Homo sapiens: one gene and its partners. The protein of the gene in region 3 interacts with the protein of the main gene of each other region in a pairwise test. Each region holds a gene or a part of one and is shown on either strand. Other genes may lie near its edges. The genes, in order: FCHSD2, GRAMD4, SH2D4A and NINL.

Region 1 (6,891 bases), on a different chromosome or scaffold from region 3:
ATACAAGGGAAATAAGAATTGCAGCCACTCTTGCTTCACCATGCAAATCATCTTCCATTCTTGACGAAAATCTTTGTTGAACTGTCAGTCTGTATTACAAGATTGTTAAATAAGTGGTATTTCTTTCATTAAAATAAGTCATCCATCCCTCTAGTAAGAAAGATACTGATTTTCACAATATTAGCAAGATGTCTTAGCTATTCAAAGTTAACTTGATTATGAATATGAGTAACCTCAATAATAAAATAAAATATGATAAACACACTTCTCACTAAATTTGGCACTCAAAAACAAAGTTGTATTTGTCATGTTCTAACCCAGTGAGAGCATATAACCATCTGGGGTTGACTGGCTCACCCCCAGATATTAACCATTAACCACAAGTGTTGGTTTAAAAATCTAACTGTGTAAAACCGTTAAGGTCAATAAAATGATTGTTACAATTCCGTGGAAAGATTATTTAAACAAGAATCTTTAATTATTATAATTTGACTAGTAAGACTTTTAAGGTCCTTGTTTTTTCTGAATACTATGTGTGCATTATAGGTCCCCCACTGAAGGAAAAAGTTTGTATTGTGTTAGTTCCAGTTCTAATTTCCAGCTGAGTCAAAGTTCTAACAGCCTTAAAGCAGGAAATCCAAAAGGAAATTCCATCATCAGTTCCTGGGGCTTGGTAACTCAAAGGTTCTTTGAAACAGACAAACAGAAGTCCTTGAACTATTTACTATAGCCTTACCTCATATCTTCAAGCAAATCACATTCTGCTTGATGTTTGGCTTGAAGTTTTGTCATCTGCTCAACTTGAATGTTTTTCAGTTCTTGTGTAACTTTCACCTAAAATATACCATATATTTATGAAGGTCTTTTTACAAATTTAACCCAAAAAAATTGCTTCAGGAAAATACATCTGTCAGAATATGTCTCTTGCTCGCCTCTCCCCTGAAGGCCATAAATCCAATATTCGCCATCTAGTTTTATTTATTGAAGATACTTATTTAATGAAAAATTAAAGCCAAATAGCCTGAACAGAGGTTAAATGAAAATACACGACTATAAATATTACAAACTAAAGACGTGCAAAATAAACTGCCAGTCATTCCATTTCATGCACAAGCTCAATCCACGTCTAGGTCTTCCTACAGTTTTAAAAGAGCCTGTCTTCTATTTCTAAAAAAGATTCAAAGACATTAACCACCAGGAGAGGTGAGCAGAGTGTGGATGGGGGCTGGGAGCCTAAGAGTGCCTGATACCCAATGACCAATATTTACACAATCATGATAATATGCCTGAATCGACTACATAAATTACTCCATAATGGCTGCGAAAAAGCACACTGTCTCAGAATGATGCCCTCGACTTGCTGACAGCGCATCAAATCACAATCTCTTTCTCACAAAGGAGAAAGCAAAAGTGACCTTCCAGCATATGCAGTGCTTTTAAACTACCCCGGGAAGCCGATCCCCGTGGAGGCTCCACTTCAAACAGCGGAGAACAGCAAATGCCTGCTGGCCAGAGAGCCTCGCCCGCCAGGCCGGGGCCCCAGGGTTCGAAGTTAACGGTCAGTCTGGAATCTCGGCCTCAGCAGTGGGACCACCCGGAGGGGTGGGGGTACATGTTCGAAAGAAAAGGACTCACTTAAATGGAGAAACCCGGATTAGGAAAGAGAGAAAGCAGCGGCAGCAGACACGGGTGAGTTAGGCGTTAGGCAAATGTTTGCCCACGAGGGGAGGACAGAACGGCCTCATCCACCCAGTGCCCAGAGTAGACATTCAGTATCCATCTGTAGGATTAAAAAGACAAGGACACAGCCTCGGCCCCTGGGAAAGCTGGGGAAGGGCGCAGCGGGGAGACTGATGACAAGCCGGGTGCATCCGTCACTCCCACCCTGGTCATCCAACCCCGGATCGCAGTGCACACCCCACGCACCTCCCGGGCCCGGTCCTCGCTTTTCTGAAGACAGCACGACAGCCTCCTCGCCCCTCAGCCGGGGACGAGGCAGGACCCGTCAATCCTTAATTTGTTTTCCCTTGGGGTGGGGAGGCGGTGACTATTCCAACTTCTTTTCGGCCGCCCCGTGGGAAAAGCAGGCCAAACCCTAAGGCTAGGCTAGAAACAAATCCCCCGCAAATTTGCAAACGGGCGGGGCTGGCGACAAGCGGCTGGAGGGCTCAAAGCTGGTGCAGACTAAACAATCACACACGCACAAGGCTCTGCAAAGCTGCAGGGGCGTCCCCGCCTCCCCCTCGGTGCAGCCCCGAGAATGCACTTTGCAGCGGGCAGCATTGCCATGCGCGCGCACACACACAAATGCACACCCGAAACTCTTGTGAAATGTCTGGGGGTCTCCTGCGTTAGAGGACGGACGAGCCCCGGCGGCCCCTCTGTCGGAAAGGCAACTCACACGCGCGCCCCCCACCTGGAGCCGGCGGCAAGTCGGTGACAAGCCCAAGACGAGGGCGGTCACGGCCCCTTGCGGGAGGGGGAAGGGGCGCAGCGGTCGCCCCAGCCGCGTTCCGCGTACGCATCTCTCCGAACCCCAAAGCCCCCCAGCTGCGCCCTTACCTTCCTCGGCGGCGGCTGCATGATGCTGAAGGGACATCAATCCTCCCCGACGGCAGCGTTAGCAAGGACCAGGAGGAGGAGGAGGGCCGGAGAGGAGGGGACGGCCCAGCGAGCGCGCGCGTGTGTGAAAGGAGCGCTTAAGAAGCAAGACTTGCCCCGGAGGGAGCAGGCCAGCGGGCGGCAGGCGGACCCCAGCCAGAGAGCGAGTGTGAGGAGACGAGGGAGGAGCACCGGGAAGGCTTGGGGCCCGGGCGGCCCGGGCGGCCCGGGGGTGTGTGAGGAAGGAGGCGGAGACGGCGAGGGGGCGGGGGCCCCAGGAGCAGGGGCGCGAGGGTCTCAGCCGGCCGGGCGGCGGGTTAGCCGCAGCCGCGTTGTCCGCGCTCCCGGTCGGCCGCCTGCGCCGCCGCTCCCGGCGGACGCAGCGGCCCCCACCCCACCCACTCAGGCGGCCCGGCCCTCGCTGGGCCTAACGCCCCCGCCCGCCCGGGAGGAGGAAGGTGGCGCCGCTCTCCCCGCTAGGGCTCCACCACTCAGGCCGCGGGAATTTCCGGCCTCGCCGCGCGGCGCAGCGCCCCGCTCCGGATGCTGAGGGAACCGCTCTGTCCAGAGCGGGGTTCGAGGGGCCGGTCCGGGCTGCCAGGAGGGAGCTAGGCCACGGCACGGGGCTTCGTACCGCGGCAGGGGAAGGGGGAAGCTAACGGATTGGTCGGTGGGTGGGAGGTGTAGAAACGCCAGCGCCACGCGAAAATCCCCCCTTTCTCTCCGAGAGTGGCACGTTCCAGACGCCTCCTGCCCTCCCTCCCCCACGCTGGGAGCCAGCCGGGGGCTTCCCGCGCGCTTTCCCGCCAGCTCGCCCCGGCGCGCGCGTCTCCGCTCGGGGGCGCGCACGTGGGCGGGAGAGGGCTCCGCGCCGACGCACGCGCACAGGCCGCCCCCGCCTCCTGCCTGCCTTTGCGTGTGTGTGTGTGTGTGTGTGTGTGTGTGTGTGTGTGTGTGTGTGTGTGTGTGTGTGTGTCGGGGGGCGCGGGGGACGACGCTCGCAGGGAAACGTTTGCAGTGGGGAGGGGGGCGCAGCATGCCTGTGGGATACGAGAATTCCGGCGTTTTCTTCCTCTCAGCCCCTCAACACCCTACTCTCCCTACCAGCTAGATGTGCGCGAGAGAGGCGAGCAAGGACAAGTCGCTTTGCGGCTGGCCGCAGGTGCCAGGCCATTGCGATTGTAGGGCGGAAAGGCAGTTGCTCTGCAAAGGAAACGGCGGCACTCTACTGCAGGGCATTCAAGTCAAACATCACTGACTCCGCTGAGAGGGAGCCAAGAGAACGTTAAGGCCGAGGCCCCCGTTTCACAGACGGGGAGGCAAGTGCCCATAGAGGGAAGCCTTTCTAAAGGTTACACAGCAGGACTAGAATCTGCGTCAGGAAGTGTTCTATGGGTTATTTTAAAAAAGAAACAGGTGCAGGATAATAAGCACGAGGAAAAGTAGAAGAGGCAGGAGAGGCCATAGAGGAAGCCCTTGTCTGGGAGTCAGGATCTCTGGGTGCCAGTCCACTTTGCCTGCTCCTTAACAGGCTAGGTGAGCTCGGCTTCCTTATCTGCCAGTGAGGGTGCTTATCTAAGCAGTGCACCCCACCACCACACATGAACCTTCCTGCTCTGTTCAGACCATCTACGGGGGAGTTTATCGACCTCCCTTGGGGTCCTCAGAAGAGGAATACCTCTTCCCCATGCCCAGGGAGGTTTTTTTTTTTTTTTTGAGTCACGGGGCTGTGTGGAGGCTGAGCTGGATTACTCCACCGTTTTTTCAGAAGTTGAGATCCCAGACAGCTGTTCTCAGAAGTGCAGTCAGGCCTAAGAGGAAGGTGAATGAGGCCTGGATAGACGAGTAACTTCCCAGATGACCACATGACCAGAAATTGAAAAGGTGGAACTTCAACCCAGGTTGTTTACATTGAGTTAGACTAGATTCTTGTACAGAAAAGTGACAGAGCTGTGTTTTGAATAAGATTAATCTAGAGCTGTGTATGAACTAGGAGACTAGTCTTGCTTTTTCTGGCTTCAAAAGTTAGCCCTTCACCAGAATCCTTAATCAAATCAGGGAAGGCCTGGGGCAAGGGGACAGGTGGATGGAGGCCCAGGGCCCTGACAGCTGCGGGGTGGCAGCTAGAGCCCAGGCCATAGGTAGCGTAGGCTGGGCTCCAGTCTCAGCTCCACCACCAATTTATTGTGAAGCGTTGAGCTAGTCAATTCACTTATTTCAGCCTTGTTTCCTCACTTGTAAAATGGAGGTATAATGCTAGCCTCATAGGCTTACTGTATTAAATAGAATTTCTCCTACCACAGGGCCTGGCATGTAGTGCTTAATAAGTGCTTATTGAGGCCAGGCGCGGTGGCTCACGCCTGTAATCCCAGCACTTTGGGAGGCCGAGGTGGCCAGATCACAAGGTCAAGAGATCGAGGCCATCCTGGCTAACACGGTGAAACCCCGTCTCTACTAAAAATACAAAAAATTAGCCAGACGTGATGGCGGGTGCCTGTAGTCCCAGCTACTCAGGAGGCTGAGGCAGGAGAATAGCGTGAACCCGGGAGGTGGAGCTTGCAGTGAGCAGAGATGGCACCACTGCACTCCAGCCTGGGGGACAGAACGAAACTCCGTCTCAAAAAAAAATAAAAAATAAAAAATAAAATAAGTGCTTATTGATTCATCATTCATTCAAAAAATACTTGCTAAAGTCCTGCTTTGTTCCAAGCCTGTGCCAGGCACTGGGGTTCTAGAGATGAGCAAGATAGAATCAGCCTTCGCCAAGACTGAGTTCCAGACCAACCATTCCTTGAATGACACTGGGCTAGTGGAAGAGGAGTAACACAGTACTTGGCCCGGATGCAGTGTCATGCACATAACAAGTGCTTAACAAAGATTTGCTGAATCCTAGTCTTGGGTGCAACTGGTCTGGCCCAGAGATTATCCTCCCTTCACCTCTCTTCTTAGGAAGTGAGCACTGGGGTATAATGGTGCTGGATGTTGGGAGACATGGGATCCAGCCTCTACCATGGATCTAGTGGGTCTTCTCTGGGCCTTGGTGCTGGCCTGCAGAATAAGATAAGTGAGTGAGCCTAGAACTTAGGAGGCTCTTCACAGAAGAAGTCAGACCCTGGGGATTTCGTTTATGCATATAGGAGGGCATCCTCTACCTGATTTGCCACCGTTCTGAAGCCAGGAGTGGCACTGACTTTCTGGAATGATTTCCTTTGGAAGTGTTATAAAGAGCTAAGGGCAATACCAGATGGGCTTACCTACTAACTCCTATTTCAAAACTGTGATTTAAAAAAATTGTTTTAATACTTACCAAGTGTCTCTTCCAAACCCTAAACTTTCATATTACTTTTCCAAGCTAATCTTTACCCATGAGATAGTATTCGTTTCTTCATTTTTACTGATGGAGAACTGGAGGCTCAGTGGGGATAAGTGACTTGCCCTGACATGATAGACTTCAGACCATAACCCAGTTGTCCGATGAGGAATGTTCGTGTATGAAGAATGTTCAAAGGAATTGGGAGAGTTCCTAACGCAGGAAAATAAGCAGACCCAGGAGGATACAATCCATTATGTTCCAGACTCTAGGGGACCAGGGAAGGGATTTCTGTGACTTATGTAAGCCTGACTTGAAATGTACCATTTTGAACAGGGTTGGGGACTTCCAGAGCCTTGCTCCTGCAATGCAGGCAAGCGCTGTGTTGCCAGTAGCATTGCTTGAGATTCTTTGGGGAAATGGTGCAGAGCAGCAGGCACTATGGCCCCAGAGACAAAACTGGGACAGGTGTTAGCTGCATCTCAGGAAGGAACTTTTCCAGGCAGAGCTACCCCTGGAAGGAGTGAGCTCCCTGTCCCTGGGGCTGTGCAAACAGGTTCTGGCTCCCTTCCATCAAGGAGACCACAGATGGGATCTCACTCTGAAAAGAAATTAATAACAGCTGCCATTTATTTTGCCTCTTCCATGTTCCAGACATTAAAATAGGCGTGTTATTTACATTGTTTCCAACATTCACAACAACTCCTCATAATACATATAACCCCATTGCACAGGCTGCAGCTCAGAAGTGAAATGACCTACCCAAGGTCACACAGCTAGTGAAGGAAAGGGAGGGCTGGCCCCTGGCTCTGAAGCTGTGCTCTCCCTCCAGCATGCTGCAGTGCAGTCTCCCATTTCATTAGGAATATGATTCTAAGGTTAAGTCAGAGCTAGGATCAAAAACTGGCCTGGAGCAGGTATATGAATGGGTATCAGAAGATCAGCTGTTCTGATATTCCAGGGCTCCTGGGAAAACTGGC
Region 2 (7,024 bases), on a different chromosome or scaffold from region 3:
CCCTTCTTCAACTGGGTGCCCCCCCACGCCCAGCCCATCCCTGCTGAGAGGCCGCCCATGACCAGCTGCTCAGACGGCTCCCAGCCACGCCCTCGCAAGTTCCCCTCCACCAGCTCCGTTTTCTCCCCGATACTGTCACCTGACACAATCATGGTCAGTCCCCCTACTAAACACGACCTCAGAAGAGCCAGGCCTGACTGCGCCCCAGGACCCCACCTGGCAACAGATGCAGGGATGGGAGGCGGGGCCGGCCCCCACACACCTGCTAACGCACCCCCCTGGGCAGCAAAAGCTGTCAGGAGTTCCGGTCTCTCCGGGTGCCCCTCCCAGTGCTGGGGGCTGTCTCGCTGCCCCCAGTGCACAGCCCGCCAGACCAGACCAGACGTGGCAGGCCCTCCCTGCAGGGGCCCCAGGGTCAGAGTTCCATGTACTATCTGTGCTATAAAGGGACTGATAAAGCTGTGCCTTTGTTTCATTTTTTGCCTTTGTAGGACATTTTCACAGAAATTCATCAATCAAGTCAGACTTTTTGACCCCAATTCTCAACTTGTTGATTCTTTTTTTTGAGACAGAGTCTTGCTCTGTTGCCCAGGCTGGAGTGCAATGGCTTGATCTCAGCTCACTGCAACCTCCCGGGTTCAAGCGATTCTCCTGCCTCAGCCTCTCGAGTAGCTGGGAGCCTACCACCACACCCGGCTAAATTTTTTATTTTATTTTATTTTATTTTATTTTATTTTATTTTTGAGACGGAGTCTTGCTCTGTCGCCCAGGCAGGAGTGCAGCAACATGATCTTGGCTCACTGCCAGCTCCGCCTCCCGGGTTCACGCCATTCTCCTGCTTCAGCCCCCTGAGTAGCTGGGACTACAGGCGCCTGCCACCATGCCTGGCTAATTTTTTTTAATTTTAATTTTAATTTTTTTATTTGAGACAGAGTCTTGCTCTGTCGCCCAGGCTGGAGTGCAGTGGCGCGATCTCAGCTCACTGCAAGCTCCACACGCGGCTACATTTTGTATTTTTGGTAGAGACGGGGTTTCACCATGTTGGCTGGGCTGGTCTCGAACTCCTGACCTCAAGTGATTCACCCGCCTCGGCCTTCCAAAGTGCTGGGATTACAGGCGTGAGCCACCGTGTCCGGACAACTTGTTGATTCTTGAAAGATGCTAGGTGTGAGGAGGGGCAGGGCCAGGACCACCCCCTTGGCTGACTGGACTGAGCTCCCAGGCCTCCTCCACGTGGTGGCCGACCCAGGAGGGACAGCTCAGCTCAAGAGAGCCCAAGTCCCAGCTGGGGCCATCCTTGCTTGGAGCAGGCAGCCTCTGCCCCTCTAAGCTGAGGTCCCTTGTCAGCACTGCAAAAGAATACATGGGCACCGATAAGCCAGGAATGCCATCTTGGCCCACACCTGGCAGGGTCACCGCTGCCCAGTGGCAGTGGTGATCTCAGGGTGGTTGTGAGAACCCAAACCACACTGGGTGTCACAAAAAAGGACAGCAGGGGCCGGGCGCAGTGGCTCACGCCTGGAATCCTAGCACTTTGGGAGGCCGAGCGGGCGGATCATGATGTCAGGGGTTCAATACCAGCCTGGCCAACATGGTGAAACCTCGTCTCTATTAAAAATACAAAAATTAGCTGAGTGTGGTGGTGCACCCCTGTAATCCCAGCTACTCCCGAGGCTGAGGCAGGACAATCACTTAAACTCAGGGGATGGAGGTTGCAGTGAGCCGAGATCGTGCCACTGCACTCCAGCCTGGGTGAGACAGACTGAGACGCTGTCTTGAAAAAAAAGGACAGCAGGGCAGATGCAGGACACCAAGACCCAGGTGCACACCCCCAGGCTCCCCGTGGAGGGCGGCCTGCCCCGGAGCTGTCCAGGGCCGCAAGTGCACTGCAGCTCTGGAGCCTCGGCACCTGGACCCAGGCCTAGGGGTCCAACAGGAGGTCACAGTGGTCACCTACCCATTCATGAGCCTAGAGTCCTGGGTGCTAGCCAGAGGGGCTCCAGGGCATTGTCGGGGTAAGGGTCTGATCAGATCTGGCTCTGCCCACTCCTGGTGATGCCACCTGATGGCCACAGTGAGCTGCTGTTGGACAGCTCAGCCGTGCTGCGTCCAGAGAGGCCTGTCCTCCCACCAGCAGTTACGCTGGGTCAGGGCTAGGGTCGGGCTTGCGTTATGGTAAAGGCATTCAGGAAACGTGGCAGGGGGCATCTGCTCTTCCACACAGACACAGCCCCCACTGCTCCTCTGCGCAGCACGCCAAGCCTAGACTGCTGAGGGGCCGGGGTCTGACCTCCCGACTCCGGCACGGAGCTCTCCCCACCCCTGGCTTTGTGGCTCCTACAGCCGCACACGCTGTCCTGCGTGGGCTCAGGCGAGTCCCACCTGCCCCTCAAGGACAGGACCCTGGCGGCCTCGCTCCCACATGCCAGTGTGTGGCCCATGTCAGACACTGGATCGTTGTTATTGAGGAAAAGAGAAAGAAAAGAAAAGAAACAAGACAAGACAAAACAAAACAGAAGAGACCAGTCGCAGTGGCTCCCGCCTGTAATCCCAGCACTTTGGGAGGCCGAGGTGGGCAGATCGCCTGAGGTCAGGAGTTCCAGACCAGCCTAGCCAATAAGGTGAAACCCCGTCTCTACTAAAAATACAAAAAAAATTAGCTGGGCGTGGTGGCGGGTGCCTGTAGTCCCAGCTACTTGGGAGGCTGAGGCAGGAGAATCACTTGAACCCGGGAGGCGGAGGTTGCAGTGAGCCGAGATCACGCCACTGCACTCCAGCCTGGGCGACAGAGCGACACTCCGTCTCCAAAAAAAAAAAAAGAGAGAGAGAGAGACAAAAACAAAGAAAAGGAGAAAGACAAAGATAAAGGAGGGAAGCAAGAAAAAAGAAAAGAGAAAGGAGGGAAGAGAGCATGCTGGGCAGCAGTGGATGAGCGCCTCCTGGGGTGAGGGGGGGCCACCACACCCCACCCACCTCCCGGCACAGCCCGGTCCTCACCGCCAGCCACCCTCCTTCCCCGCCGCCAGCTCTGCAGATGAGTGTTTTAGTGGATGAGACCCTTGGCTTCACGTGATGTCACCAAACTCATCAGCTACAACCAACCTCCCTGCACATCAAACCAGGCTCTCAGGCTCTCCATGACTGTCACCCCTAAGCCCACAGGCGCCCCAAGAGGCATGTCCTGCCCAGGGCAATTCCCTGACACCCCAAGTCCTGCTATCCTGGGTCTTGGGTCTTCCAGCTCCTCCCACTTTGCAGGAGACATGGGGGCCTTGGAAGTGGAGGGCTTCTTGATTTAAGAAACAATCACCGTGTCCCTCGATCTCGGATGGGCTTCACTTCTCCCAAATTGAAACATTTGTGACAAAAAGCAGAGGAAGGATCGCCAGGTGAGTTTAACAGCTCTTGCAGACACCTGGCAGACACTGGTGGCATGCGGACACCTGTGTCCCTCCTCCTGAAGCTACAGGCCGCAGGTGCATCTACTTACCCACGGCAAGCCCCACCAGGCGGTAGGGGAAGAAGCAGGAGGCCAGGAAGGCAGCCCAGAGCGCCACATACAGCTTCTGTGTGATCTCCGGCTGGACCCACATGAACAAGCTGGAAGGAGACGGGAGGCTCAGGCCGGGCGGGCGCCGCAGGGCCGGGGTGGGGGGCGGGACTTACTTCTTGATCTTCTCCAGGATGTCAGCCATCTTCCCGAAAAGGTTCTGTGTGAAGGAGAAACAGCAATTACAACAGCCCCCGCTCCTGGGCTGTCAGTCACACCGCGACGCCAGGAGGGCCTCCAGGTCGGGCAGCCCTGAGGTCACTCGGAGCCCTGTGGTCCTGCCCGGCTGCTCCTAGGCCGGGGAAGGCCCAGCTCTGGTCTAGGGCAGAGGTGGCCACGCTCACAGCAACAGCAGACCCGGGCCTGAGTCCTTCCCAGGGGCGTTCAACCCTGGCCAGGGGCGGTGGGGAGGGAGGGGAGCTCCACCCTCGCGCACCGTCCGCAGAGGCTGAATCAGGAGGCCCCTTCCCCAACCACCAGAGTTGCTGTAACGACCATCCAAGGGCAGGGTGACTACAAGTCAGCTGACCGCGGACAAACCGGGCCTGCAGTGTCAGGCACGGCCCTCCCCAGGCAGCAGCGGAGGCCGGCGGAGACCTACCCCTGGCCGGCGTAGACACACCCCTGGCTGGTGCCCATGGCTGGCGCAGACACACCCCTGGCCGGCGCCCGTGGCAGTACCTGGGCTTTCTGGGCGACGTCCAGCACCAGCTGGAACTTCTCAGACACAGTCAGGTCTTCCTTTGGAGGTTCCTTCAGTAAAAGGGGAAAGAGAATTTTCCACTGAAATTTAACAGTTCAGAAAAACCACTGACAAAACAGTGTGGAGCCCTCCCAGCCCCAGGGACTCTGCTGTCCCCACACAGCCAGGGGGGATGGGACATCCCTTGGGGACCTGGCACCAGGAGGACACCCCTATGGGCTGATGGTGACATCTCACCCCGTGCCCCTCACTCTGGGTGCACAACAGGAGTGGGGCAGAGCCGCCCCTGCAATGGCTGAGCAGAGGCTCTGCCTCACAGTTCACCTTCACAGCTGCCCTCCCTCACTTACAGGCAGGGAAACTGAGGCCCAGCCAATGGGAGCCCTGGTCCTGCTTGTCTCCCATTCGTTAAGAGCCTCTCAAGGTCTCCTGGGTCCCAGTGCTGGGCGGGCAACAGCCTGCCTCCTCCAGGTACTTGCCCTGACCCCTGGTGCTCCATGCAAGAAACAGGCACTGAGATACCCAACTAGGCCCGTGGAGGCACCGAGGCCTCCCTTCTGCCCACGCCCAGTGGTCCTGCCCCATGGGCCGGGGTCTCCCTCTAGAGCAGACTTCTGTAAAGGGCCAGACAGTAAATATTTTTGGCTTCCATGGCCACGTGGTCTGTCGTCTACTCAAGGGTAATGCAAAAGCAGCCGCAGCAGTATGTAAATGAATGGGTGTGTCTATGTGCCAATAAAACTTTATTTACAAAGTTAGGCAGTGGGCCAGAGGTGGGTTTTTTGTTGTCGTTGTTCTGTTTTTTTGAGACAGAGTCTTGCTCTGTTGCCCAGGCTGGAGTGCAGTGGAGGGATCTCGGCTCACTGCAACCTCCGAGAGGTGGGCTCTTGAATCTCAGATGGGAACAGGTCCACTTGTCCAGCCTACTGTTCACCACCCTACCTGGGGAGGTTGTGGGGGCTACAGCAGCCCCTCAATGTCCCCCACCCCTGCCATACCACATCCTAGCTGGGAAGCCTGGCCAGGGCCAGGCAATCTGCTTCTTGCACAGCCAAGCCTGGACTAGAATGTGGGGCCGGGCTTGCAGCCTCGCAGGCCTTGGGGCTAGGGAGGGGCTGGCCTCCTCCTCCCCTCCTCTTCAGGCCAGGCCAGGACTCCAGGGGGATGACCACATGGCCTCATCCAGAGGCTTCCCCGAGCGGTGCCTACAGGCTGTGAGGCCTGACGTGATGGAGACAGTCGGAGGAGACCGTGCACCCTCCAGGGACTTACCACGGGCTCAGACACTTCGGGCACGATGCTCCACTGTATCCGCCACCCCCTGGCGAACAGAAAACACACACACCTTTAGGACAGCGCCACCTGAGTCAGGGGAAGGCATCGAATCGCTGGCCCTGCACGCCCAGCTGGGCTTGGAGGGGGCCCTTCTAGGTCCTTCTATGCTGCCCAATGGGGAGAAAAGGTCCCTCCGGAACCCCCTGCTGTGAGAGCAGTCAACTCCTGTCACCCTCACCAGCCCCTCCTCTGGGGCCCTTCTGGGCAGAGGGGACATATTTAAAAGTGGCCAGCGGTGTGGGAGAGGGCGGCCCTTCAACATCCAAAGTGGCATCAGCAAGTGTCCAAGCTGATCCTGACCTAGCTCTGGGTACCAACGACACCTTCCAGAGTATTTAAGTGATTTCTACAAAAAACATTTTCAAATGAGCCAACTGGGGCAGGCACAGAGAACCATCTGGAAACACTGGTGCATAAAAGTGCAAACTTTTGAACGGCCAAGTCAAAGTACAGAATCACAGCTCTTCCCTGAGCCTCGGTGCAAGGCTGAGGTTCACTCCAGGGGTAACCGCAGGCTAAGAAGGACCCAGGAGTGCAGGGACTAGGGGTCCACCCCAGGGCATGGGCTTCCCAGAGCCCCCCTCAGCCTCCACAGGGAGGGGGTGCTCAGAGGGGGCATAAGGGGTGACACGAGAGCCCTGACTCAGGCCAGGGTTGGGGTTAACGCGTCAGTCACACGGGCGTGCTGTCTGCAGGCGACTGGTACTCATTCCCGGTCCAGCTCCTCCCCAGCAGGCTCATCTCCAACAGGCAGCCAGCAGGAACCTTCCGGGGCGTGGAGCCCTGTTTGCTTCACCCACCTACCCACTGATGTTGGGGAGAAGCCCCCTGCGATGTTCGGGCAGGTGCTGGAACGGCCCTGGCTCTGCTGGCCGCCCGGGGAAGGAGCTGCTGGGGGATTTGGGAACTTCCCACTGCCATCTCTAGCAAACCAGGGAGGGGGCAGCCGCCCTGCCTGGGGGGTCTCTGGAGCCTGTCAGGGGACCACCCCCAAAACGTCAGTGCATGACATACCCAGCTGGGGTCACGGTTGTGAGACGCAGGGAGACAGCACAGCCATACATGCGGTGGGATAAAGCAGCTGCAACAAACCGGCTCACCTACCTGGCGATGAGGTAATTGAGGGATAACCTCAGAATTGCTAGAAATAAGAACAATGGGATGGCCCAGCCATGCCACACGGCATTCATGTACACCTGCGGGTGAGAGACAGGGCGTCAGACCTCCTGACAGCTTGGATCAGGACAAGGCACATCCCTCCCGCCTCCCCCCACCAGGCGGCCCCAGTGGGGAGACCAGGCCACCCGCTGGCTCTCCAGACACTCAGGGATGAGGGTGCGTCTGATGGGGAAGCCGGAGGAAGGGCTGCTTCCCCGGTTTAAGAGCCGCCGGTGGAAGCCAGGAGACACCTAGGGAGAAGCGTGTCCTGGGGACAG
Region 3 (7,024 bases):
AGTTGGAAAAAATGAGCTAACTGAGCACAGCTGAAAATAGGAATTGCCCTTTTTTAAAGACCACCTTCATTGCTGTCAATCAAATATACTGTCCTTCAAAATGCTGTGGGACAGGGACATCTACAAGTCATTTCCATGCTACCTTTGGAAGAGACGGTGAACAGGAGTTAGCTGCAAAAACATCCCTGCTGAGGCTCTGTCGCCAACGTGCGGACAGACAAGCTCCAGCACTTAGAGCCGTGTGCACCTTTGTCAGCTGTTCTCACAATTAAGAGACTCCTATTTCCTGACTACATTTCTTGCTTTGTTGTCGGTAAGAGAAGAATCATTACCCAAACGATCACTTTGGAGATCATGGTCTTTACTGTAATTATTTCCACTTACTCCACTGAGTTCCACGTTGGTCCCCACTTCCCGAAACGGAACTTTCCAGTAGAGTAAGTAGAAATAATTACAGCAAAGAAAAACATCCGCCTTTGTGTTTCCCCTGAGGTCATCACTCCTGTTTAAAGACAACCTTGAAGATAACTACGACTCCAAGCAGGAGAAGAGTCTTATTTTTCATTTCTCCATAATCTTAGAGAAGTATTTCAAATTATTTTTAGTTTTTATTTCAGAATGCAAGGCTTTAGACAATTCTGTTTCTTTCAATCAACATTTGATTTTAATACTTCTTTCTAAATACTAGGATGTTAAAAATAAGATCAATAACCAGAAAAAAATTTAGAATCAGCAAACATAAGGGATGGGGGTTTAATAGCATCATTGCACTTTTCTACAGTTTTTCCAGAACAAATGGTTCTTCCTAATTCTTCCACAGCCTAGCAGACAATGGTATCTCCACCACCAAATAGACAATTCATCTAAAAAAGGAGGCTTTCCAAATTCTTAAAAGAGGAACTTGGCTATGTATCCGTGAATGAGAATTACCATCAAACCTTTAATCCTTGGCAGTGAAAATGTACTCCCACTGATCACACGAAAGTCAGCAAGCCTTTGGGTTCCTACTTTGATAATCTTTGACTAAGGGTGATCTTGGGCATCAGTGAAACCCCACTTGTTTCCTCTTCTCCCCTCACTGGCTCACCGGCTGCCTCTGGGGGGGAGGGGGGCGGGGGAGGGAAAGGGGAGAGTGGGGTAGGGACACGGGAAGTTCTCTCATTCCATGCACAGCTTTACTATTTCACTGGGTATACTAAGTATAACAGCTATGGACATTTGACAGCTAAAAAAGGGAGGAATGCCCGCCCAGATCACCCAGGAAGAAGGCTTAGACATGAACCTGAGCTACTTACACAGGCTGCCAGTTGGCCCTCCACACCCCATGGCAGCTCATACAATTCCCCTTTAATTTCAACGCTTATTCAAAGCCCATTGCAATGTTTATGCATAAACCCATCTGTGTGGCTTCTTACCTAAGAGGTTTTTGAGGATATGCCCCTGAGTTTAGGAACTGAGGCTTGGGTGGAAGGGGAGGTCTTTCTGGTTTCTGCGGAACACGCAAGGGGCTTTGCAGCCTCTCACCGCCTCTTCCTTTCTGGGCCCCGAGGGATAACCTCTTGTAGTCTTCTCGTGCTTGTTTAGCCAAGGAGCGTCTCTTCTCATCAGCTGCTTTGGATTTTCGCACTGGAAAAACAACGGGGTCGGAGAAAACCCTCATCAGCCCACAGAGCAGGTGAGAAGGCTCAGCATTCATTGCACAACGGGCAGCAGCGCAGGTTCTCAGCAGTTTGTTGTCTGCTTATAATAAGGAACAATCATTATCAACACCTATGATCCAGGCCATTAGGGCTTGCCCAGCGTTCGCTGCAGGATTCCTCTCTTCATACAGGACTGGGGGTTTTCTGAGAGGGAGAGAAAAGGAAGAGGAGGAAGAAGGGATGAGAGAGAAGTAGAGAAAGTGTGCAAGAATTTCCTGCAGTTGGCAAGACCAAGTGAGGATCCCCCGCCTGAGCATGGGTTCAAGCTGGCAGGGGTGCTGAGTAATAAGAGGCAATTGTCACGCCCTGCATGACTTATGTTCAGATGCAGTGTGCTTGACTCACTAGCAGAGATCAGGACTACTCAGTGGCATGGGGCTGTGCATAGGGTGAAGGAGCAGAGAGCAGGACAGAATGAGAAGCAACCTGACAGACAAAAAATTAAAGGGATGCTTAACCACAGGTAATTGTAGGACACATTAGTACACAAAAAAGTACCCCAAGTCTGCCTTTTAATATTACAGTCACTAGTGACTTAATGAGAGAAATAAATCCTGAGAAATGCATCATAAGGCAACTGTAACACAAGAGTATTTGTGTGTCTAAATACCCCCAACATAAGGCCGGGCACAGTGGCTCATACCTGTAATACCTGCACTTTGAGAGGCCAAGGTCGGTGGGTCACCTGAGGTCAGGAGCTTGAGACTAGCCTGGCCAACATGGTGAAACCCCAACTCTACTACAAATACAAAAAATTAGCTGAGCATGGTGGCAGGCGCCTGTAATCCTAGCTACTGGGGAGGCTGAGGCGGGAGAATCCCTTGAAACCAGGAGGCGGAGGTTGCAGTGAACTGAGATCACACCATCGCACTCCAGCCTGGGTGACAAGAGCGAAACTCCATCTCAAAAAAATAAAAATAATCAATACCCCCAACATAGCAAAGGTATAGTAAAAATATGGTATAGAGGACAAAAAAAAATGGTGCCTCTACATAAGGCACTTACCATGAATGGAGCTTGCAGGACTGGAAGTTGCTCTGGGATGAGTCAGTGAGTGAGTGCTCAGTGAATGTTAAGACCTAGGACATTACTACACACTGATGTTGACTTTGTAAACACTTTACACTTAGGCTACACTACATTTATAAAATTTATTTTAAAAATGTATGCAACCCATTATTTTGGGGTTTTATTATTATTTTTTGGTTTTCTGTATGTGTGTGTCTGTGTTTTTTTTGTTTTGTTTTGTTTTGTTTTTGAGACTCAGTCTTGCTACATTGCCCAGGCTGAAGTGCAGTGGTACGATCTCGGCTCACTGCAACCTCCGCCTCCCTGGTTCAAGCAATTCTCCTGCCTCAGCCTCCTGAGTAGCTGGGACTACAGGTGTACGCCACCACAACCAGCTAATTTTTGTATTTTTAGTAGAGATGGAGTTTCACCATGTTGGCCAGGCTGGTCTTGAACTCATGACCTGAAGTGATCCACCCACCTTGGCCTCCCAAAAGGCTGGGATTACAGGAGTGAGACACAGTGCCTGGCCTAAAAACTATATGCGACCCATCGTTGACCAAAACATCATACAGCGCATGACTACTTTGTAAAACAGAATTTTTTGTTATAGCAATGAGACTCAAATGCAGAATGTAAAAATGATTTTTATTGACTATATTTACACTTCAGGCAGTATTGGTCAAATCCTGTTATACTTGACTTCAAAGAGACACCCAAAATATTCCCTTATGCTAGGATTTCAGTGCATAGTACAAAGAGCCTACTGGATCTTGCAAATATTTTCATTTCACAGTAGTTGTCATTTAAATGGCATTGGTTGTAATGGGACTGCAGATCAATGTAGGATCTCAACATCCTGCAAATATAGCCATACCTGCTGTCTTCCTCAAGCCACCTCAGGTTGATCTAGCAGTTCAGATTTCTCTGAGTCAGATGGAAACACTAATTCTTTCACAAACCTAATTCTTCTAGCATTCTGGAGCATCCTCTCCTCTGCCTTCAGTTGCATGGGCTTATTCTTCTCCTATGAGTTTTCTCACCCATTCTGCTCACTCAAATAGGAGTCAAGGCTGGGTCACAGGCAGGAGCGGGATGCTAACACATCCAGCCTGGTATTCCTGTGTGCTTCTGATTACAAAGTTAAAATGTATTCACTATCAAAAATTTAGGGGAAAAAAAATCCAAAACACAATATTAAATTACAAGAAAAACATTCAAATAAATAATCTTGAATCTCACCTTTCCAAGAAAACTAATGTTTACATGTTATTATAACCTTCCAGTTCTTTTCCTTCAGATACTTAGACATTTCTAAATAGCGAAGCTTTTCATTCTATTTCATGGTGTTTTTTCTTCCCCAAGCTAATGAGATATAAACAGTCTAAGATCATTAAACACTCTCCAAAACCTATTTTCCATAGCTATATATCATGCTATTTGATAAATTACATCATAATTTTGGTGATACAGAAATAAATGGAGAACGAGTCTGCTGTTCAAAAGTAGCCTGTAAGCATTTGAGTAATAAGTTAGTAATAACATTTGAGTGGTAACTTACTGTGAACATATCTCTCAACAACCCACATTAAGCGCTTTCTAGATTGATCACATTATTAAGGGAGAGAATCAGCTGAGAGCCTGGAAGGTGCTATGGAGACCTCTGGGTACTCACGAGATGCCTGCCATTCCGAGTCTTCTTTCCAGCTCTTACAAATCTGCTTCGTTCTCTCTTCTTCTATTTGATTTATTTCTTCATCTTGTTTTTTCTTCATAGATTCTTTCTTCTGTTTAAAAACAAAACAAAAAAAAACAAAAACAAAACAAAACAAAAAAAGAACCTTGGTGAGCAAATCCAGCAGTTTCCTGAAGGACGGGGTACCCGGCACAGCTGACTTCTATCTAACTCTCTGGCCCACTAGGAAGGATCAAGTGTGGACTTTGGAGTCAGTAAGACCTGAAGTAAGACTGACCATTGCTAGCTAGTGTGTAACTCCAGGAGCAACAAATGAACCTCTCTTGGGCTGTTTCCCCATAAGAAAGATGAGAAAAAAATATTTCTTAGGGTTATATTGAGGATTAGATAACTTAAGAAGTCCCTGGCACAGTGTATAACATATAGTAAGAAAAAATATTCCTTTTCCTCAGACACAGTACTTAGCTGCTTCAAACTGACTCCCTGAAGGATGTAAACACACTATTACATAGAACTAGCATCAACCTACTTTACAGTAGCTGACAGACTCCACAGAAGAAATGCACATTCCCAGAGCAATCTCAGCTGAATCTCTCCCCCGAGTCATGTGTCCCAAAATGTGGTACTTACTACATGATTTTAAGTGTTTCAAAAGAAATATATATCATTATTATTTTTTTAAGATGGAGCCTCACTCCTTCGCCCAGGCTGGAGTACAGTGGTATAATCTCGGCTCACTGTAACCTCTGCCTCCCAGGTTCAAGCGATTCTCCTGCCTCAGCCTCCTGAGTAGCTGGGATTACAGGCAAGTGCCATCACACTTGGGTAATTTTTGTATTTTTTGAAGAGATGGAGTTTCACCATGTTGGCCAGGCTGGTCTCGAACTTCTGACCTCAAGTGATCCACTGCCTCAGCCTCCCAAAGTGCTGTGATTACAGGCATGAGCCACCACACCCTGCCAGAATATGTATTTTTTTGTTTCAAAAAAAAAAAAAAACAGAAAAATATTTTTCAAAAGCATCTTTTGAGAAGGGAGAAATACTTTCAAAATGTAAATATTCCTTTAAAAGGAGAATTAGGTTTTTAAAACTTAGGGTAAAATTCCACATAACAAAATTTACCACCTTAACCATTTTTTAGTGTACTGTTTTCTGGCATTAAGAGCATTCAACGGAAATCATTTTAAACGAAAGAGAAATGAACAAACCAAATCACTTAGACCTGAAAAGTACTTTGCTTATTTGGACACAACCTTCTGAGTGCTCACAAGACGACTGAATTTACAGTTTGGTGGACTAATAAAAGCCTTGGTTAGCTAAGCAATAAAACAAACTGAAATGGCCAGAAAGGGCTGCCTGTGCCCACCTCTCTATCACAAGTGACAAGCTTTTTAATTTTGTGCTTTCCCACAGAAATGTAAAGACTTCCTTGCTATTATGTCACCACAACGTAAAGTATAAACATTAATATTGTGAAACTTGTTTCTGATCGCTCTGGGCAGTCATAAATCACAGTTCAAGTAATCATCATTCATAAATTGTGCTTCACTGCAGATGTAACTAAACTTCTGTGCATTTACTGTTTTCATTTTTTTTTCCTTACACTGTTTTCCTGCCTAGAGCTAAGCTCCTTTTGTTTGCCAACATTTGAAAATCCAAAGGACAGCTTTGATGTTTGAAAGGACTGTTAAAATTTGCCATCCTTTGATTGAAGCTGTTTGCCAGCCCAAGATAGATACATGTGCTGCTAGCAATTTCTAAGCTTAAACAGAAAAAGCTTCAAAGTGGAGCTTTGTTCATCCTTCCACATGCATACGTGTTTATTTTTAAACGGTTAGGAAACATATAGTGAAAACATCAAGCTATGATCATCATGGATATTGTTGCTGAGGATAAGCAAGAAATTTGGAACATGACATGATTCTACCTAAGAAAAAATATTAATAATAACAGATGTAGTACTTGGTTGATGTTACTCAAATGTCTAACAGAGCTATATTTAATAAATCTACTCCTTTAATCTGCATGTAATTATGTACATGCACAGTGGAAAAGAAGAAAAATTAACGAGTTTCACAGAGTAATAGCAGATGAGATCTGCTATTACCCATCTATATACGGCCCTGACCACCGTATTTATTCAAGAAAGCTAGAAAACGTAAGGAACTTGTCCTGCGTCTCTGAGAGAATTTTACTTTTATCAAAATCTGTAATGGTTTACTTTCTCTATTCAGAAGACCATCATTTCCTTTTCAGCAGTGTTTTGCTGGAAGCATGTTGGACCAGGACTCAGGACTGTCAGCCAGGCATGGGGAAATCCAGGTGATGGCTTGGAGTGGAGGGGCGGAGGGGCCGAGGCTGGATGCTAATCCAGATGCCCAGGGTGGAAGGTGTGGAGACCCAGATGTGTGGTGTGAGCTGTGAAAATGTGTTCAGCTAACAGTACCAGAAAACAAGGGCACGCTGGGCCCATATAGAAAGCCGCTGGGCCCGTTCAGAAAGCCTCTTGTCCAGCCTGTTGATGGAAGCACTTAGAATGCCTCCCCACCAATTCCTTCATCAGAGCCTCACAAGTGTCCCCAAAGGAGGATGCCTCTGTTTTATCACCTTTGTTCTACAG
Region 4 (7,024 bases), on a different chromosome or scaffold from region 3:
CTGGGCCTTGGGACCTCTGGTGGCCCGCAGGAGAGTCCAGTGGAAGTGAAGTGAGAGCTGGCAAGACCACAGCACCAGAAGGGGTATGTGGTCCATGCCTGGCCAGGGCAAGGGGAGCAAGGAAGTGGTTGGAGGGCCTCCACCTCCAAGCATTGGCAGATCGGGAGCCCTGCAGAGCGGGGACAGCAGCTCCCCAGGAGCAGGCTGCTAGAGACAGCTCCGGGTGGGGGCCAGGTGCACAAGGGCCTGGATGCTGAGAGGAGAGGGGCTGCTTGTGCCTGCCCCTCTGTTCCCACTGGGGTCTGCAGGGACTCTGACCCAATCTCTTACCACACGCTCTTGGCTTTAAGGGGAAATAGCTGAAAGCCTGGGGAGGCACAGGATGGACAGACGACTTTTTTTTTTTTTTGAGACGAGTCTCACTTTTTTTTTTTTTTAGACGAGTCTCACTTTGTGGCTCAGGCTGGAGTGCAATGGCGAGATCTCGGCTCACTGCAACCTCCGCCTCCTGAATTCAAGTGATTCTCCTGCCTCAGCTTCCCGAGTAGCTGGGATTACAGGCGCCTGCTACCATGCTCAGCTAATTTTTTGTGTTTTTAGTAGAGACAGGGTTTCACCATGTTGGCCAGGCTGGTCTCGAACTCCTGAGCTCAAGTGATTTACCCGCCTTGGCCTCCCAAAGTGCTGATTACAGGTGTGAGCCACCGCATCCGGCCGGAAAGATGACTTTCTGTCAGGCTGGGGGTGGCCTGGCCAGTGTGGTGGGAGGGCCCGTCCTCTTCTAAGCCGGGGCCAATGCTCTCCACAGGACAGTGGGTGCCAGCTGAGCAGCAGCCTGTCTGCGATGACCAGGCACTTCCTCTCCTACCTCAGATGCCCCCAACAAGAACAGACGTGGTCACTTCACATGTACCTCACACCAGAACACATAAAACACCAGCACAGGCTTTCTGTAAGCCTTCTCTCTCGCTTGCACACTTGAGCCTTTTTGGGAACCTCACTAACCCCAGCTGGCCATCTTTCCCATTGTTCAGGGCTTCAGGCCTTTCTCCATCTCCCCACATGCTACCCTGCCTGGCCCTGGAGAAGCGGGTGTCTCTGAGCGATGGAGGCAATGTTGCTGCCGGGCACGGCTGAGGCAGAGGGTACAGAACACTGGGCTGTTTCTACACAGTGAACAGCTTCATGGCCCATGATCCAATGTATATTTTAAATTCAGAGCCAGAATCCTCATGCCAGGACCTGTTCTTTTGGCACTCACCCATCTGCCCAGAGGAAAACCACCCAGTCGGGAGGCACAGCAATTCTGAGTTGTTTCCTAAGTCTAATTTCAAATTTTGGTTCTTGGCAAGAAACCCCAGACTTGAAATCTCAAAAGAAGCTGGCTGGACCTGATCTGCTGCAGGTGGCTGTGATGCCGCAGGGCCAGGCCACACAGTGCCTGGGTGCAGCAGGGTGCCAGGCCCATCTGCTCAGGCTCGGGGCCGCGGGCTGTGTCCTGCAGCTGCTCCTGCAGGCCCCAGATGACCTCCTGAGACTTCTCGTGGAGCTCCTCCAGGTCGGCCTTCTGACCCTCCAGCACGCTGACCTCGCGCCTGCGAGCCTGCTCCATGTCCTTCCTCTCCTTCTCAAAGTTCCTTTTCAGTGCCGCAATTTCCCTTTCGTAGTAATTTACCTAAAACGAGAAACATGAGCCCCGTGGACCAGGAGACCCTAAGAATGATCTTGCTGCTGACGTAACACAGAAACACGAAGCTGCCTGGCACAACGTGCAAAGACCGGCATCCTGGCCTGCCGAGGTGCCAGGGTGTGCAGAAGGGGACAGTGACATGAATGTTGGTGGTGCTCCCCAGGGCCTAGTGAGGTGTGAGTCACCTATCCCCCCTGAGGCAGGGCGGCAGGCAAGACAGGCAGGAAGCTCGGGGCTCACTGGAGCATTTGGCCAAGCACTGCAAGGGACGCAGAGGGTGGAATCTTTACAGGACCTCGGGGTGGCTCTGAACAGCGTGGAGGCCCTCAGTGGAAGGAATACCATTCAACTATGGGTGGGCAGGGCTCGCCGGAGCTTCCAGTTAATCCTTCAGGGATCCCCAGGGCATGGCCACAGGCAGCTCCACCTAGCTGGTACCCTGACGGAGGAACTGGACACACAACAAGTCATGGACACTGTCCCTCAAAAGCCACCACAGTCTAGGAACAGAACAGGGCTAAGTTCATCCTGACAGTTTCATCCAGGGTGGCCCTGGCCTCAAAGCCACTGAGCTACCCAGGGGGCAAATGCCAGGTCGCTCAGGCTTGGAGCACAGCCAGTAACTGATTCCCACCCACAGACCAGCAAGGAGGGCTGGCCACGGCGCTGCGCTGCCTCAAGTATCCCCTTGTGACACTCCAGAGTATCACACCATTCCCTCCCCATCAGTCATCCTATGTCCTGTGTCCTTCCAAAGAGGGTTTGGGCAGCATGTCAGTTTTATTGCATTTCTCTACAAACTTTCCTCCCCAAAGGGGCTCACAATGAGACAAAGGATTCCAGGGCAGACGCATGTGGAAATGTCAGCGTGCCCAAGTAAAGCTGCCCAACACACAGCAGCTACTCCCCCAGGGCCCCACAGCCCCATAATCCCCTCACCTTGGTCTCCAGCTGGGTCCTGAGGTCTTGGTAATGCTCCTTTACCTGCTCCATCATCAGCTCCGTTTCTATACTCACTGGAGCAGAATTACCCAGGAATGAAATGCCTGCAAACAAGAGGCCACTTCCGTTTGTCACACTGAGGATGCCACGGGGGCCCCTTCCAAACCTTCCAATCTGATATTTTGGCATTGGCATCCATGAGGGGCAGGTGGTGCTGGCTGTGAGGATGACGCTGCGTCCTTAAAGTCAGCACTCGTCAGTACATAGCATTCCGTTATTTATCAGAACACTCAGAGATGAGACTAGGTGGCTCCCCACATGATTCACAGGAGCCCCTTTAGTCCCTAAAATATGCTGTGCTATGGTACATTTACTGCACCCTAAATCCTGTTCCCTGAAGATGCCAGGGTCACGGAGGAAATGGAAGGACATAATGGCCTGTGGCACAGCAGATGCCCGGTGGTGCAGAGCTTTAGATGATGTGCCGATGACCACAGCTGTGTGCACGGAGGTTATCTATCTATTTAGATAACCTTTCCTTGGTGGCCCTACATTATTATTTCATCACATAAACGATGCCAAGTTCTGAGAGGCAGTTCTGGCACACTAACCCCTGCTGGAATTAGCGCTCTGAGACTGACGGGCAGGGAGGTGTGACAGCCAGCGGCATCCAGGTGGGACGTCAATGGGGCTACGGACCCACAGGCACCACCCTGGGTGCAGGCAATCCTGGATATGTGCGTTTCTGGGATGGGTGGCCGGTGGGGTCTTGCACCTCCCTGCAGCTTCCTGAGAGTCTGCCAGCTGTTGGGGTGGCGCCTCAGGAGCCTGACTCCAATCCAGGAGCCAGCAGGGGAGGGGGTGCCTTAGGGGTCCCAGGAGGTCAGTCTCACATGCACAAAAGCCCCGACTAGGCTCCCCTATGAGGTTCCCATATTGGCCTATTTTTTTTTATTTCATTGAGTAAACAGTTTCAGGGCAACAGGAGAACTCTGAAGTTCTCCCGGGGTTACAGATGGCAGCAAAATCTTCTCTGAGGGGCTGAGGTTGCCATGACGGGGGAGCGAGGGGAGCAGGTGGGGCTGCTGGGTCCCCATGGGCCCCTGTCACAGCAGTGGACACGGAGCCATGTGCATTGTATGCTGCTATTGAGTGGGCAGAGGCCACCCCATCCTCCAAAGGGAGCACCACAGACCTCAAGGGCGGCTGCAGCACCTGGACCCCCATTCTCTCTGCAGAGGAGCCAGAGACACTTCGATGTGGGTTCCGGGGACCCTGGGTCCTTGGAGCTTGTCCTAATCCCATTGGCTGCGAGCACAGGGGCAGTTGGCCAGGTGGGGCCGCTCCCTTAGTGCTTGGTGCCTCCCTGCCTCAGTCAGACTTGGGGGGTGGTGCCAGCTACCACATCACCCAGAAGCAGCAAGGGTAAGCCCCGACAGCCTCTGTCTGAACAGGCCTGAGTACTGGGAGGCCCCAATGCATTCTCCGGGATTTAGCTCTTCTCAGTCTCAGCAAGTACCGTGTCACTGAAACAGCTCTGAGATGTGGGAACAGCCTGGGCCAGCCCTGGGGCTGCCCACCTTCAGCGTCCCTTCCTCCTCCCTCTGCAGGTGACCTTCCGTGTTGCAAGGTCACCCTGTGGCATCCCTGGATCCTCCTTGGAAAGTCCCTGCAGAGCAGACCACCTCCCTTCAGGTCACAGCAACATCATCATCTTCATCATCTCCACTCTCTTTTCCTGGCTCTGGGCCTTGTTGTCAACAGCAGGCCTTGGGTCAGCCCCCTCCCAGGGACGGGCTCCTACCTGCTGGGCCGAGTCCAGGGAGCTGCCGTCTGCGCCCATCCGGGCTCCATGAGGGGCTGTGCCGGTTCTTGGGCAGCCGCGCCCACAGGCCTTCCAGCTCAGCTTGCAGCTCATCGTTGCGGTCCTGCAGGTCCTGTGGGGACAGAGCCAGCCACCTCCTCTAGCAGCTGCAGCCATTCAGCCCAGCGAGCTGGCCGAGCTGGCCTCCAGGGGGGTCCCTTGCAGGTGAGGTGCACTGTGAGGTGAGGGCCTGTTGCTTCCCAGCTTCCAGCAGGAAACCATCTGGATTTTAAGTCGCTAACATCATGGTGAGATAAGCCAAAACAAAGGTCCTTTCTTGACTTTCTCACTTTTAAAAACTTTTATTTTTACTGTATTTTATTTATTTAGAGACAGAATCTTGCTCTCTTGCCCAGGCTGGAGTGCACTGGTGCAATCTCAGCTCACTTCAGCCTCCTTCTCCCAGGTTCAAGTGATTCTCCTGCCTCTGCCTCCCAAGTAGCTGGGATTACAGGTGTGCGCCACTACGCCTGGTTAATTAATTTATTTATTTTTCTATTTTTAGTAGAGATGGGGTTTCACCATGTTGGCCAGGCTGGTCTCGAACTCCTGGCCTCAAGTGATATACCCATCTCAGCCTCCCAAAGTGCTGGGGTTACAGGCGTGAGCCACCATGCCTGGCCCTTACATCACTTTCTATCACTGTTATATGGGAGGGGCTCAAAGAAAAAAGTGAGGCAGCTCCTGGGGAGAAATGTAGAAAATGCAGAGTATGGCCGGGCATGGTGGCTCACGCCTGTAATCCCAACATTCTGGGAGGCCCAGATGAGCAGATCACCTGAGGTCAGGAGTTTGAGACCAGCCTGGTCAACATGGTGAAACTCCATCTCTACTAAAAATACAAAAATTAGCCGGGCATGGTGGCATGCGCCTGTAATCTCAGCTACTTGGGAGGCTGAGGCAGGAGAGTCGCTTGAACCCAGGAGGCAGAGATTGCAGTGAGCCAAGATCATGCCATTCATTGCACTCCAGCCTGAGCAAAAAGAGCAAACTCCATCTCAAGAAAAAAATAAATAAAGAAAAGAGGCCAGGTGTGGTGGCTCATGCCTGTAATCCCAGCACTTTGGGAGGCTGAGGTGGGCAGATCACGAGGTCAAGAGATCGAGACCATCCTGGCCAACATGGCGAAACCCCGGTCTCTACTAAAAATACAAAAACTAGCCAGGCGTGGTGGTGGGCACCTGTAATCCCAGCTACTCAGGAGGCTGAGGCAGGAGAATCGCTTGAACCCAGGAGGCAGAGGTTGCAGTGAGCCGAGATTGTGCCACTCCACTCCAGCCTGGTGACAGAACAAGACTCTGTCTCAACAAAAAAAAAAAAAGAAAAGAAAAGAAAAGAAAATGCAGAATACTGTCACCACCAGAAACTACAGTCTTTGTTGGAACTGCAGTGGTGCTGCAATGTGCATGTCAGGCAGTGCCCTGGGTAAGGATAGGATTCCTTCCTCAGCGGCCACTGAATTTGCAAAGGGTTCTGCAGCTTTAACTACCAAAGAGGAAACCATTTGCTTCAGATCATATGCTGCAAAGCAGAGAACATGTCAGAAAGAAAGGATGATGTTGGTAAGGAGACACTGGAGCAGGTGGAGGCCGCGTGGGCGGCGGGAAGGCTAGGACACCATGGCAGGGTGGGTGGAAGCTTCAGGGGAGGCATCTGCATTTGTGGCCAGCTTAATTGTGCTCCCACTTTAATGAACTACGTCCTAACCAGTATGCTCAGTCACTTGCTCTTTAAAGGGACAGGAAGGGCAGAGTTTCTAGCCCACTTTCTTAGACACCTCCCAGGGTCCTGCAGACCTTCAGGAAGCAGACATAAACCAGGCTGTGCATGCTTCCCCATTCACACGTGGCTGGGGCCTCGGTCCCCAGCCCTGCAGCCTGAGTGGGACTTGTGACTGCTTCGACCTAGGAGACAGCAGAAGTGATGCCACGGGACTTCCAGGAACACGACATCCACCCACTTCTGCTGGGACATTTGCTCTGGGGCAGCTGCCGCCACCATGCTGTGATGAAGCCCAAAGTAGCCCTGCAGAGGCCACGTGGAGAGGCCCAGATGGAGAAGGGAGGCCCCAGCCCACACGGCACATCATGCAATATACCCAGGTAACAAACCTGCACAGGTACCCCCAAATCTAAAATAAAAGTTGAAAGAAAAAAAGTTTTTAAAAACACCAATATCCTTGTTACAAAATACAAAGAAACCCCAAAAGTGAGTTTGCAGAGATCAGGTGACATACAGTGGGGAGGGCTCAGGGTGATCCTTCTGGAATCTGGAGACCGACCAGAAAGATGCCCTCAGTCAAGACACAGCGACCCCTAGGAGCGAGCAGCATGCCAGGCACCCAGATCCTGTCTCTAAAACCATTCCCTCAGGAAAGGAACCAAGACTCCTTGGAGAAATGGCAGATTGTGGGCAGGTGCTGGGGCATCTCATTATGCCAGCAAGTGTGGAAACATTTGACAAAACAAGGCAGCAGCCAACACTGCGGGGCATGCCGCGGCACAGCAAGCAGCCGAGGACTCTCACTT

The links.
Region 1: the proteins of SH2D4A (region 3) and FCHSD2 interact in binary tests that used the Homo sapiens proteins (3 or more experiments, as listed by UniProt).
Region 2: the proteins of SH2D4A (region 3) and GRAMD4 interact in binary tests that used the Homo sapiens proteins (3 or more experiments, as listed by UniProt).
Region 4: the proteins of SH2D4A (region 3) and NINL interact in binary tests that used the Homo sapiens proteins (3 or more experiments, as listed by UniProt).

The regions. Positions count from the first base shown.
Region 1 is NC_000011.10:73,139,295-73,146,185, forward strand, and holds the start of FCHSD2 (F-BAR and double SH3 domains protein 2), read right to left. Parts: upstream 3,025-6,891; 5' UTR 2,584-3,024; coding exon 2,563-2,583; intron 2,191-2,562; exon of another isoform or gene 1,927-2,190; intron 835-1,926; coding exon 737-834; intron 1-736. UniProt on the Homo sapiens protein: Adapter protein that plays a role in endocytosis via clathrin-coated pits. Contributes to the internalization of cell surface receptors, such as integrin ITGB1 and transferrin receptor.
Region 2 is NC_000022.11:46,665,375-46,672,398, reverse strand, and holds part of GRAMD4 (GRAM domain-containing protein 4), read right to left. Parts: intron 6,785-7,024; coding exon 6,693-6,784; intron 5,575-6,692; coding exon 5,526-5,574; intron 4,304-5,525; coding exon 4,232-4,303; intron 3,711-4,231; coding exon 3,667-3,710; intron 3,601-3,666; coding exon 3,491-3,600; intron 1-3,490. UniProt on the Homo sapiens protein: Plays a role as a mediator of E2F1-induced apoptosis in the absence of p53/TP53. Plays a role as a mediator of E2F1-induced apoptosis in the absence of p53/TP53. Inhibits TLR9 response to nucelic acids and regulates TLR9-mediated innate immune response.
Region 3 is NC_000008.11:19,358,674-19,365,697, reverse strand, and holds part of SH2D4A (SH2 domain-containing protein 4A), read right to left. Parts: intron 4,496-7,024; coding exon 4,384-4,495; intron 1,627-4,383; coding exon 1,416-1,626; intron 1-1,415. UniProt on the Homo sapiens protein: Inhibits estrogen-induced cell proliferation by competing with PLCG for binding to ESR1, blocking the effect of estrogen on PLCG and repressing estrogen-induced proliferation. May play a role in T-cell development and function.
Region 4 is NC_000020.11:25,477,532-25,484,555, forward strand, and holds part of NINL (ninein-like protein), read right to left. Parts: intron 4,570-7,024; coding exon 4,437-4,569; intron 2,737-4,436; coding exon 2,630-2,736; intron 2,123-2,629; exon of another isoform or gene 2,036-2,122; coding exon of another isoform or gene 2,033-2,035; intron 1,676-2,032; coding exon 1,392-1,675; intron 865-1,391; coding exon of another isoform or gene 664-864; intron 1-663. UniProt on the Homo sapiens protein: Involved in the microtubule organization in interphase cells. Overexpression induces the fragmentation of the Golgi, and causes lysosomes to disperse toward the cell periphery; it also interferes with mitotic spindle assembly.